3 separate regions of the Homo sapiens genome follow, and all the other regions are linked to region 3. Evidence: fine-mapped expression QTL. A gene starts in region 3. Each other region holds a variant in brackets. All regions are shown on one strand. Distances are between the middles of the regions.

Evidence for each region. PIP is the estimated chance that this variant, and not a neighbour inherited with it, causes the effect. A credible set is the group of variants that fine-mapping cannot tell apart.
Region 1: its variant is the best candidate, but not a certain one, in a credible set for the expression of GPD1L in prefrontal cortex (CommonMind, PIP 0.89).
Region 2: its variant is the best candidate, but not a certain one, in a credible set for the expression of GPD1L in monocytes (TOPMed, PIP 0.58).

What each region holds. Positions count from the first base shown.
Region 1 is chr3:32,167,400-32,171,728 of GRCh38, reverse strand. It overlaps GPD1L (glycerol-3-phosphate dehydrogenase 1 like), which reads right to left. Exons shown (of 8, transcript NM_015141.4): 8 at 3,020-4,329. Among named protein-coding and RNA genes, the nearest start is that of GPD1L, 63 kb to the right of the region's middle. RefSeq lists an enhancer at 1,729-2,386. The variant C/G (reference allele first, on the strand shown) is at 1,804.
Region 2 is chr3:32,144,002-32,148,001 of GRCh38, reverse strand. GPD1L (glycerol-3-phosphate dehydrogenase 1 like) reads right to left here. Exons shown (of 8, transcript NM_015141.4): 5 at 1,268-1,380. Among named protein-coding and RNA genes, the nearest start is that of GPD1L, 39 kb to the right of the region's middle. RefSeq lists an enhancer at 1-219. The variant C/A (reference allele first, on the strand shown) is at 2,238.
Region 3 is chr3:32,104,140-32,108,411 of GRCh38, reverse strand. It overlaps GPD1L (glycerol-3-phosphate dehydrogenase 1 like), which reads right to left and starts at 1,792. Exons shown (of 8, transcript NM_015141.4): 1 at 1,654-1,792. The coding sequence starts at 1,700. RefSeq lists silencers at 1,390-1,529, 1,650-2,059.

The sequences.
Region 1 (4,329 bases), 63 kb before region 3:
CTCCTTTTTCTCTCTTCTGTAACTCCTATCAGATGTATGTTCAAGTCCTATTCTATCTTCCACTTAATCTTTAAATTCTCAAATATTTTCTTTGCTACTTTAATATCCTCAGATCTATTTTCCAGTTTGCCAATTCCATCTGCAGCTCTGTCAAATCTAGTCTTTAATCTTTCCATCTGCCTATTTTTAAACTTCAAATGATTATATTCATTCCTAAATGTTTGAATAGGTTCCTTTTCAAATCTGCCTGGCTGGGTTCTTTTTTTTTTTCCTCCCATACAATTTATTTTTTAATCCTTCTTTTATGCCTTTATTTTTAAAAATATCTTTCAAAGCATCTGGCCAGGCTCATGCTTGTAGTACCAGGGCTTTGGGAGGCCAAGACAGGAGGATTGCTTGAGGCCAGGAGTTTGAGACCAGACTGGGCAACATAGCAAGACCCTATCTTTACTTTAAAAAAAAAGCTGGGTGTGGTACCATGCCCCTGGAGTCTTAGCTACTTGGAGGCTGAGGCAGGAGGACTGCTTGGGCCCAGGAGTTGGAGGCTGCAGTGAGCTATGATCACACCACTGCAGTCGAGTCTGGGCAACATAGTAAGACCCCCATCTCTATAAAGGATTTCAAATGATTTTAAAAAAGCATCTATCGTATTACTCAAATTATCTGAAATCCTACGGTTCTAACTCTGTTTTTAAAAATCTGTTGGTTTTCACTCATAATGAATTATTTTTCAACTATTTTATTTATCTTTTCAAGACAGTGTCTCACTGCTCTATCTCCCAGGCTGGAGTGCAGTGGCATGATCTCTGCTCACTGCAGCCTCAACCGTCCTGGGCTCAGGTGATCCTCCCACCTCAGCCCCGAGTAGCTGGGACCACAGGTGTGTGCCACCACTGGGTGACAGAGCAAGACTCTGTAGCAAACAAAACAAAACATTTTTCTCACATGGAGCCCAGCTTCTTTGTTTGTACCTCTACCTGGGTTTTCTTATTTCATTTTTTTCCCTGACAACATAGCCTTTGGTGGGCTCTCGTGTAGCATAAGCTTCACAACTCAATTCTTTCGACTCTGGCAATCAGTCCCCTATTTGTTTCAGGATTCTAGGAATTTCCCTTACATTTTTTTTTTTTTTTATTGATCATTCTTGGGTGTTTCTCGCAGAGGGGGATTTGGCAGGGTCACAGGACAATAGTGGAGGGAAGGTCAGCAGATAAACAAGTGAACAAAGGTCTCTGGTTTTCCTAGGCAGAGGACCCTGCGGCCCTCCGCAGTGTCTGTGTCACTGGGCACTTGAGATTAAGGAGTGGTGATGACTCTTAACGAGCATGCTGCCCTCAAGCATCTGTTCAACAAAGCACATCTTGCACCGCCCTTAATCCATTTAACCCTGAGTGGACACAGCACATGTTTCAGAGAGCACAGGGTTGGGGGTAAGGTCACAGATCAACAGGATCCCAAGGCAGAAGAATTTTTCTTAGTAGAGAACAAAATGAAAAGTCTCCCATGTCTACTTCTTTCTACACAGACACGGCAACCATCCGATTTCTCAATCTTTTCCCCACCTTTCCCCCATTTCCATTCCACAAAACCGCCATTGTCATCATGGCCCATTCTCAATGAGCTGTTGGGTACACCTCCCAGACGGGGTGGTGGCCGGGCAGAGGGGCTCCTCACTTCCCAGTAGGGGTGGCCAGGCAGAGGCACCCCTCACCTCCCGGACGGGGCAGCTGGCCGGGCGGGGGGCTGACCCCCCCACCTCCCTCCCGGACGGGGTGGCTGGCCGGGCCGGGGGCTGACCCCCCC[C/G]CCTTCCCGGACGGGGCGGCTGGCCTGGCAAGGGCTGACCCCCACCTCCTTCCCGGACGGGGTGGCTGCCGGGCGGAGACGCTCCTCACTTCCCAGACGGGGTGGCTGCCGGGCGGAGGGGCTCCTCACTTCTCAGACGGGGCGGTTGCCAGGCGGAGGGTCTCCTCACCTCCCAGATGGGGCGGCGGGGCAGAGGCGCTCCCCACATCTCAGACGACGGGCGGCCGGGCAGAGACGCTCCTCACTTCCTAGATGGGATGGCGGCCGGGAAGAGGCGCTCCTCACTGCCTAGATGGGATGGCGGCCGGGCAGAGATGCTCCTCACTTTCCAGACGGGGCAGCCAGGCAGAGGGGCTCCTCACGTCCCAGACGATGGGCGGCCAGGCAGAGACGCTCCTCACTTCCCAGATGGGGTGGCGGCCGGGCAGAGGCTGCACTCTTGGCACTTTGGAAGGCCAAGGCAGGCGGCTGGGAGGTGGAGGTTGTAGCGAGCCGAGATCACGCCACTGCACTCCAGCCTGGGCACCATTGAGCACTGAGTGAACCAGACTCCGTCTGCAATCCTGGCATCTCGGGAGGCCGAGGCTGGCGGATCACTCGCGGTTAGGAGCTGGAGACCAGCCCAGCCAACACAGCGAATCCCCGTCTACACCAAAAAAATACGAAAACCAGTGAGGCGTGGCGGCGCGCGCCTGCAATCGCAGGCACTCGGCAGGCTGAGGCAGGAGAATCAGGCAGGGAGGTTGCAGTGAGCCGAGATGGCAGCAGTACAGTCCAGCTTCGGCTCAGCATCAGAGGGAGACCGTGGAAAGAGAGGGAGACGGAGAGGTAGAGGTAGAGGTAGAGAGGTAGAGAGGTAGAGAGGTAGAGAGGTAGAGAGGTAGAGAGGTAGAGGTAGAGGTAGAGGGAGAGCTCCCTTACATTTTTACGAGATCAGCACTGGTTATATTTTCCCAGCTTTTAAAGGTATACATGGAGTGGGGAGAAGGGGATTTCAAATTCACTAGAAGGTCTCCATCCTAAACTGCAATTGTATAAAAATATCAGTAAACAATAAAAACAGATGCATTTAAGGCCTGGGATTAGAGATGAAGCCCTTCTGTTGAAAACTGTTTTTGATATTGGTAATGAAACACAGTTCAGGAAAAAAGAAAAAGCCGACAAATAAAATGATTACCTAAGCTGATAAAAAGAAAAACAGGATCCACGGTGCAAGTTTAGGGGGTTAAATGTTTATTAAATCAAGCTTTTAAATTATATATCCACCTACAGTCTATAAACAAATATAGTACACATGTATGTAAAAGGCTAGCAGATAAGAACCAGTGGAAAAACTAAAGTTCCCTTTGCACACCGGCACCTCATCACAACACCCTCTTGGTGTGGATGCCATGGGGCCATGCTGTAGTCAAAAGTTAAATGAAAAACCACAAGTTTAGTTTGACTCCGTCTCCTAGGGTGGATTTCATTCAGATATTTGTTCCATATTATAGGAGGGTGGATCCTAGCAAGGCAACAGTGTAGTTTTTACATTCACAGATTGGCTGAAGTAGTACAAATTGAGCTGCTAATCTAGGTGTCTCCCTCCCTGTTACCATACTTCATAAGAAATGTGAATTAAAATGAACAATGGACCACAGGTGGTTATAAAAATAGATAACTCGCAGAGTCATAAATATCTACAGTTAGTAGAGCAGAAACTTCTAAAATTTACCTTTTTCCATAATGTGCAGAATATCCTAAGTATGTTCAAGAGACACAGTCAGCAGACTTCAGAGTGGTAATTACAAGGGCATTTGTAAAGAAATAACACTCGAGTACAAACCCAGAGTAAGAAGCTGAATGCAGATGAAAATACGCAAAACACGCAAAGTTCCAACTCCTCACATCTCATTATGCTACTTACTAGACACCACAATTAGCTTACAGCCCTTTATATATCTTTTAAAGTAACTTTTTGTTACCTGTGTACAAACTTTAACAAAGATTTTTCATGAGACAAGCAAAGTGGGTTAATGGTGGCGCTAAAACTGCTGAAACTTGGAGTGTTTTGTGTGCTTTCGTATACTTCTGTGTATGGGGCTTTAAAATGCTCCAAAAATGTTTTGGATAGAGTTTTTAAAATTCCCATGAAAATCTATTTTATAATCATTTCAAGGTATAGAAAAAAAGAAATCCTAAACTGGCATTGAGGGACAGGCCCAAATCTCACAAAGTAACTTAAATTCTAGGAATATATAAATTACATTCATATGTTCATTTAACACGTATCAAGTGCTATGTAAGGTAACTGTAATGGATTCTGAAGCCAATCTCATTTAAAACAGTACAGTAAATCCCATTCTAATTCTACAATTAAAGCACTTATTCCAGGTAATGTGCGTTTCAGCAAAGCTGACATCTTGTACAACAGTGTCACCTTAAAGCTTCATCAAAGATTCACAGCAGGCCTGAACTGTAAAAGTTCAGAACCAACAATGCCACAGGTAGTTATTCATCCTAATTTCTCGCAGGGAGTGAAGGGTC
Region 2 (4,000 bases), 40 kb before region 3:
TGCTAATGCAAAGAATGCCCCACACAGGCGCTTAGAAATATGCATGTGTGCTCCCTAGGAGCCCAGGCCTTTAATTGGCTTTAATTTTTTTAAATGCTCATTATATATCATGACCACACATATATACACAATGTTAATTCTAGAGAGTGGTTTTAACTTCTGACTAGAAAAAAACATATACAATTTATGAGAAAGCATAGACAGGCATTCTTTCCACCTTTGCAACTCCCATCCAATAAAGACAGGTGACTGGTGGATTGCCTAACCTCTTCCCTAGATGCTCAAATTTCTGAAGGGTGGCTTTTTGCTGCAAAAGAGATGACTCAGAAGTGGCTCAAAAGGGGCATTCACATTGAGAACTTTTTATTTCCCCTATTCCCCCCACTCTTTTTTGTAGATGATAGTGAAATAAAGGCAACTTAGATAGTGAGGGGGAATGAGCAGGTAGCTGCTGCTGTTCCCTGTTGGTTGTTCCCCCAAGTCACGGCAGAGAGAGGGACAGTGCCTAAGGCTTTAAAAGACAGCAGCCAACAAGTCAGGAGCCCAGGTGTGGAGACCTCCCTTTACCTCAAAAGAGGGGAAAAAAAGATAACATAAACTACATACTTATGATTTTTGTACTTTTCTGTATGAAGTACCTCTTAAAATTTACATTAAAACAAACAAAAATACACCTCCAATCAAAGAAGCCGGACACAAAAGAGTGCATACTGTACAGTTCCACTTACAAAAATCCAGCAAGCCACTGGCCAGTGGAGTGCATTTCTTTAATCACATCTTCTCTCTCTTGAGGGCAAAGACAAAACTATTCTTAGAAAAACCTCTACCAGCAGCAGATTATTTTTTCCCTTAATAAGAACAACCAGCCAAACTAGTAGAGTAGCATAATTCAGAGGAAACAAGTTCCTTTTCCTGCTCAGGATGAAGTGTGGGAGAAAAACATGAATGAATAGAATCATTTGCTCCTGGGTGAAACCCTGTCATCAAGGAACTCCCATGCTTTCCAAATATCAATGCTGCCAACTTCCCAAAGACCAAAACATCACAATTCCCCCATATTTACAAGTTAAAGCAAGCCACGAGTAAGAGAGGAACTGAACCACCCGGGAAAGGCTGCAGCAAAACAGGAAGTTATAAACAAGACTCTCAATTCACTATTCTTCGCTGATGTGGGTGCACAGAACACAGAGCCCATTCTTGAGGATTAGACTCAATGATGCTAACATTTGCCTTGCTTGATGAACTCCTCCCCTGAGGCTGACTTTACCTTAAGCGCACCACAGAGTTCAACAGTGTCTGCATCATCAACCACGGTAATTCGAAAATTTGGAGTCTGCAGAAGTTCTTTGAAGAGAAGGCCGTTCTCCATTACTTTGCTGCCTGTTGAAAGGTTAGACAACAAGGATATTAATAACAGCCTCTAATCTTAATTTTCACACCTAATACACTTTAAAATAAGTTTCTACTTACTATAAAAGTAACATGTTCATGATAGGATATTTAGAAAACACATAGGAGCAGAAATAAAGTAAAAATATCCCGTTTCCAATCGAGGTGATCATTTACAATTTGACATACATTTTTAACTGACCGAATGTGAATCTAAAGTTTTTTTTGGCCAGACACGATGACTCACACCTGTAATCCCAGCACTTTGGGAGGCTGAGGCGGGCAGATCACGAGGTCAAGAGATTGAAGCCATCCTGGCTAACATGGTGAAACCCCATCTCTACTAAAAATACAAAAAATTAGCTGGGCGTGGTGGCACGTACCTGTGGTCCCAGCTACTCAGGAGGTTGAGGCAGGAGCATCGCTTGAACCCAGGAGGTGGAGGCTGTAGTGAGCTGAGATCTCACCACTGCACTCCATCCTGGGCAACAGAGCGAGACTCTGTCTCAAAAAAAAAAAAAAAAAAAAAGAAAAAAGCATGATTGTCAACAAGTAAAACTACACCAAGAAGTGACACAATGTCAAAATAATCCAGGCCATCTGAGGGTTGAGAGAGGGTGGGGAGTGGATGAAATGAGACTGGCCAGGAGTTAATCATTTCTAAAGATGGGTGACGGGCATGTGAGGTTCGTGATACTACTCTACTTTTCTGAAAAGTTTCATAATAAAACACAATATCTACACCCAATACTTAGAAACACAGTCTACTCTGTAGCATTACTGTTCTTTCATTTAGCTGAGTTCCCCTTTTCCAAATGTTAGAACTATGTCAGTTTGTGCAAACTGTT[C/A]TCTTCCTTTTTAAACAGTCCACCAGGCTGTCTAGGTGACTCTGTGCAACACTGTTGCATCATCTGGGTTGGGTAAACCAGCCCCTGGCCCCTACATCATATTACAGCCTCATCGTGTCTCCTCCCACTGCTCAGTGCCTCCAACATGAAGCATGCTCCTGAACATTGCAGACCAGCCCCTCCCTCAAGTCACTTTAATCCAGCCATCTGCAGCTGGAAACTTGGGTTGCTGGTGAACAAACTGAGGAATGGGCAGGGGAAGGCACACTCTTGGCTTGCCATAGATACAAGGTAGGGTCTATGGGTTCCTTTGTGGCTGCAAATAACGCAATGCCCATCCAAGAGGTGGGCTTGATTTATAGCAATCTCATATTTTCTCAAAGGTACCTTTTAAAATTTATTACCTTAAATCATGGATAATAGGTAGTAACTTTATTTATTTATTTATGAGACAGAGTTGCTGTGTTGCCCAGGCTAGAGTGCAGTGGCACTATCTCAGCTCACTGCAACCTCCACCTCCCAAGCTCAAGCGATTCTCCCGCCTCAGCCTCCTGAGTAGCTGCAACTATAGGCATGCGCCACCATACTCGGCTAAGTTTTGTATTTTTAGTAAAGATGGGGTTTCGCCATGTTGGCCAGGCTGGTCTCGAACTCCTGACCTCCAGCAATCCACCTGCCTTGGCCTTCCCAAGTGCTGGGATTAAAGGCATGAGCCACCGCACCCGGCCCGCGAATTTTATTATTAATATAATACCAGTCATAAGCCAGCGCGGTGGCTCATGCCTGTAATCCCAGCACTTTGGGAGGCTCAGGTAAGTGGATTACTTGAGGTCAGGAGTTCGAGACCAGCCTGGTCAGCATGGCGAAATCCCATCTCTACAAAAAATTCAAAAATTAGCCTGGCGTGGTGGTGTGTGTGTGTGTGTGTGTGTGTGTGTGTGTTCCCAGCTACTCAGGAGGCTGAGGCATTAGAATCATTTGAGCCCAGGGGGCGGAGGTTGCTGTGAGCCGAGATCACGCCACTGCACTCCAGCCTGGGCAACAGCGTGAGACTCCATCTCAAAAACAACAACAACAACAACAACAAACCCCAGTAATAAACAGTGACATGGCAAGCAGGGACTCAGGGCATCTGTACAGAACAGCTAATGCCGGACAGCCATGTGGGAAGGTTGCCCAAAACTCAATGTAAACCAAAGACAGGAAAATCCCCTTTCTCTGTCACACCAAGTTTTAGAGGCAATTAACCTATGTAATAAAACTCCTTCAAAACCCTTATTTTAGTTTGTGATTCCATATGTGTTTGTGTGCTTACAAGTTCCATAAGGAGCTTATGTATTCTAGACATTTGGCACCATGCCTGATACATAAGAGGGTTTGAAAAATATTTGTGGAATGACTGGATTAAAAGCCTCAGAGTCTGTGGTATGCCCCAAGAACGAAAGGAGACCTTACCACAAGAGGGCACTGTAGTTCACCATGACAGGATTTTGAGGCCTGAAGCTGCCCTATCTTTTCCCTCCACAGAAGATTCAAGTGGGCCACGATTCCTGAACCTACCGCAATTTAAAATAGTCCCTATGCATCAACAAAGGATGTCTGGATAACCACACTGCAATGATCAAATACAGAAAATGTAATGTTTACATAATATTATTATCTAACATATAATCCACATTCAAACCTCACCAATCACCTCTGCATTGTCTTCCACAGCAACCCTCCCTGCCTAATCCAGGACCCCACACTGCACATAGTGCTCA
Region 3 (4,272 bases):
CCTTAGCATCCCAAGTAGCCGGGACTACAGGCGCCTGCCACCACACCTGGCTAATTTTTTGTATTTTCAGTAGAGACGGGGTTTCACCGTGGTCTCAATCTCCTGACCTCGTGATCCCCCTGCCTCAGCCTCCCAAAGTGCTGGGATTACAAGCGTGAGCCACCATGCCCGACTAATATTTTATTTTTTGTAGAGGCGGGGTTTTGCCGTGTTGCCCAGGCTAGTCTCAAACTCCTGGGCCCACCTCAGCCTCCCAAAGTGCTGGGATTACAGGCATAAGCTACTGCGCCCAGCCCTGGTTGTTAAACAATGTGAATGTATTATTCAATCAAATATCATTATGGTTTTAAAAATTAGTTTTTAGGCAGGGAGCGGTGGCTCACACCTGTAATCCCAGCTACTCAAGTGGATGAGGCACAAGAATCGCTTGAATCCAGGAGGTGGAGGTTGCAGTGAGCCAAGATCGCACCACTGCAACAGAGTCTTAGTATTGACTTAGCATATGCCAGGCACTAGGGTAGATGCCATTCTCAAAAGTTGGGAGACAGATAATCAAATAACTCCTTATAATGCAGTGATGCAGGCCAGCAATAGGGACACAGAGAGAGGCCACTGGCCTTGCTGGGATGGAAAAGTGAAGAACCAGGTAAGGTTTCCTTCAATAAGTACTTTCTGGGCCAAGTCTTGAAAGAGTAAAACTAAGACCAACTACCTAGGACCAGCTGCTGCAGCACTTCTGATGCCTGTCACGCCACAGAAAAACCGGTAAACAGAAGCACTGAAAGGACATCATCACTCTTAACTATTGTACACCAGTCCCTCCAATGTGGCAGAGTGTACAGCAATGAAAAAAGGCTTGGAAACACCAGATGCTACACTTTGCTTCCTTCCCCCTTCACACCCCCACCTCTACATTCACCCAAACACACCAGAGAATCCCACAGTGTACGTTTGATTAAGGGTACTAGAAGAACTGACATTTCTAATGTGCTCTATAAAATGTTAAAGTCAAATAAGGCCCCAAAGAGACGCAAAGCTTCGCAAACATCTCGGCAAGGGAGAATTCTCAACGCCTCAGGGAGAGCGGCCTGTTGAAACTTGGATTTTCTTCCTGATACGACGCGCCTAAGATAGTGGACCTATCAGAAGCGGGGGCGAGACGGGCACCTTGAAGGGCAGAGCATGCCCCGCCCGTGACCTGGGCAGCAAGAGCCCTTTAGCCCTCTCCGCCTCGGTTTCCTCAACACCGAAACTGCAGTAAGAATGCTCGAGCCTCCACCAAGTCCTTGACCCAGGAGATCCGCCGTGGAGAACGGAATACGCCCTTAGGATATTGTGCAAAACACCCAGGCGTGGCAAGCAGGTGGCTTCTGTGCGCTCAGTAACGGGGGCGCAGACAGGTGCCCGCGTGCTCGGGGTGCCCTCTCTCCGCGCTGTCCCCCGCACGCACGCGAGCCCAGCGCCTCCCGAGCGAGTGCCCCGGTGCGGCCTCCTCGGGCGCACGGTGCCCAGCCCAGCAACGAGGTCGCCCACCCCGCCTCCCTGCGCGCAGTGCCCGGTGCCCACGCCGCAGCATGGGGCGCGCAGCCCTCACCGCCCGGGAGAGGCGCTTCCTGGAAGCGGAGCCCCGGCCTCCAGCCCGCCGCCGCTCACCAGTTCCCCGAGCCCACGATGCACACTTTCAGGGGCGCCGCTGCCATGGCCGGGCCGAATGTAGCCGCCTGGACCGTGCTTCCCTGGCCGGCTGCCCACCTCCGCCTGTTCAGCCTTGCCCGCAGCGGCTGGCGGCGGCCCCGCCCCTTTCGCCTCTCCGCCAATGGTCGCGGCCACCCCCGCCCGGCGCCGGGGGCCGCAGCTGACAGCGGGGCAGGACCCGCTTCGCCACTCCCAAGAACCACTGCGCACGCCTGGCCCCGGCCGGCCTCCAGGCCCGGCTCCGGCACCGCCCCGCCCTGCCCGAGGCACGTCGGGACATGTAGTCCTCACCCCCCGTCGCTGCGCGGCCCTAGGCAGCAGCTCCCGCCGCGCCACATGCAGGCCCAGGCCACTGAGCAGCGACTCGCGCCCCTGGTTCCCGGTGGAGGCTGCACTCCATCCTCATGGGTGGAGCAGACCCAACCAGCTTGCCGTGGTGCCCCCTACACGCTCCTTTTTCCCTACTCGGGAAGGGCTGCCACATTGCCATTTGGAGCCGAGAGAGGCTCCTAGGTTGACTCTCAAGCCGACCAGACTTGGGGCAGAGCTCGAAATGCCCACCCGACCTTGTCATCCTCTGTTTCATTTGCACAAACAAGACACAGCCTGGCACCTCTGAACTTCTTAGAGAACTTGGATCTTCAGAGGACTTTGGAATTTGGCTGAACAGTACCTGCATTTCAAGGATGACACCTTTTCTAGTTAGAGTCAAGATAGAAACTTGACCTGGTGCAGTGGCTCACACCTGTAATCCCAGCACTTTTGGAGGCCGAGTCAGGAAGATCACTTGAGCCCAGGAGTTCGAGACCAGCCTGAGCAACATAATTAGGACCCCCCACCCCTCTGTACAAAAATTTAAAAAATTAGCCAAGCATGGTGGCACGCACCTATAGTCCTAGCTACTCAGGAGGCTGAGGCGGGAGAATTGCATGTGCCCAGGAGGTCGAGGCTTCAGTGAGCCAGGATAGGGCCACTGCACTCCAGACTGAAGGACAGTGAGACCCTGTCTCAACAAAAAATAAATACATAAAAATAAAGGGAAAAAGGTAACAACAGCTTGCATTCAGTGGGTGTCACCCTCACACGCTTACTTGGCAGGAATTGCTTTACCATTGTCTTTGCCCAGGGCCTGACTTATCCCTTGCTTGTGGTTTGTTTGCATTTGTGAGTAACACAATGCTCTCCTCCTTGACAAATAGAATCTTAGTTTGTTCATTCTGAGCATCAGTCTCTGCCAGGCACTGTGCTAGACGCTGTCAGAGTAGGACAAAGTCCTTTAAACCAGTGGTTCTCAAACTCTGCTGCATATTAGTCACTGGGGCTTTTAAAAATCCCCATGCCCAGACACCATTGCAGGCCAGTTACATCAGAATGTCCCATGGTGGGATCCAGGCATCAGGATATTTACTTATTGACATATATTTTTTGAGACAGTCTCCTTCTGTTGCCCAGGCTGGAGCAGAATTTTTTAAAGTTCAAGAGGTAGTTGCAAAAGCAAGCCAAGATTGAGAACCAGAAGACTAAAATATCAGTGGATTCTGGCTAAAGAAACAAATACTCTAGTACCTACAAAAAACTAAGCCTAGGCCGGGTGCCGTGGCTCACGCCTATAACCCCAGCACTTCAGGAGGTCGAGGCAGGCAGTTCACCTGAGGTCAGGAGATGGAGACTAGTCTGCCCAACTTGGCAAAACCCCGTCTCTACTGAAAATACAAAAAATTAGCCAGGCATGGTGGCAGATGCCTGTAATCCCAGCTACTCAGGAGGCTGAGACAGGAGAATCTCTTGAACCTGGGAGGCGGAGGTTGCAGTGAGCCGAGATCTTGCCTGGGCGACAAGAGCGACACTCCGTTTCAAAAAAATGATAGTAATACTAAGCCTATTAGTTTGATGCTCAGAGAACTGTTATTTTTGCTTTTTTCTCTACATTGTATGAAATATTTATTTGTGTTACTTATGATATTTACTTAAGGAAATACTTAAAGGGAGCTGGTGAGTCAGAGCAGTCTTTCCATCCCCTCACCAATGGTTTGTTCTCAATTATTTGCACTAATGCAAGGATACATGCAGGGATAATGGGAAAGATGGACTAGTAAAGCTTTATTAATCCTTTCTGTATTTGTGTAACAGAACGCATTTGTCAAATTGAATAATGAAGTCATGTCCTTGGGTAGTACACATACACTGCAAATATTTATGTTATCTAACTGAACTAGGGTCCCTTCACCTGACACAGTAAGGCCAAATACCCACACCAAGGTTTGCAGAGGGAGAAAGAAGGGTGTTTATCTGTAGGGTACCAAGCAAGGAGAATCAGGTAGCTCCTCCTTGATGGCTGGCAAGTAAGGGTTTTTAAAGGCAGCTGGGGGCCAGGCGCGGTGGCTCACACCTGTAATCTCAACACTTTGGGAGGCCGGGGTGGGAAGATTGCTTGAGCTCAGGAGTTCAAGACCAGGCTGGATAACACATACCGTGTCTCTACAAAAAATTAAAATTAGCTGGGTGTCCCAGCTAGTCGGAATAGGCTGAGATGAGGGGATTACTTGAGCCTAGGAGGTCGAGGTTGCAGTGAACTGT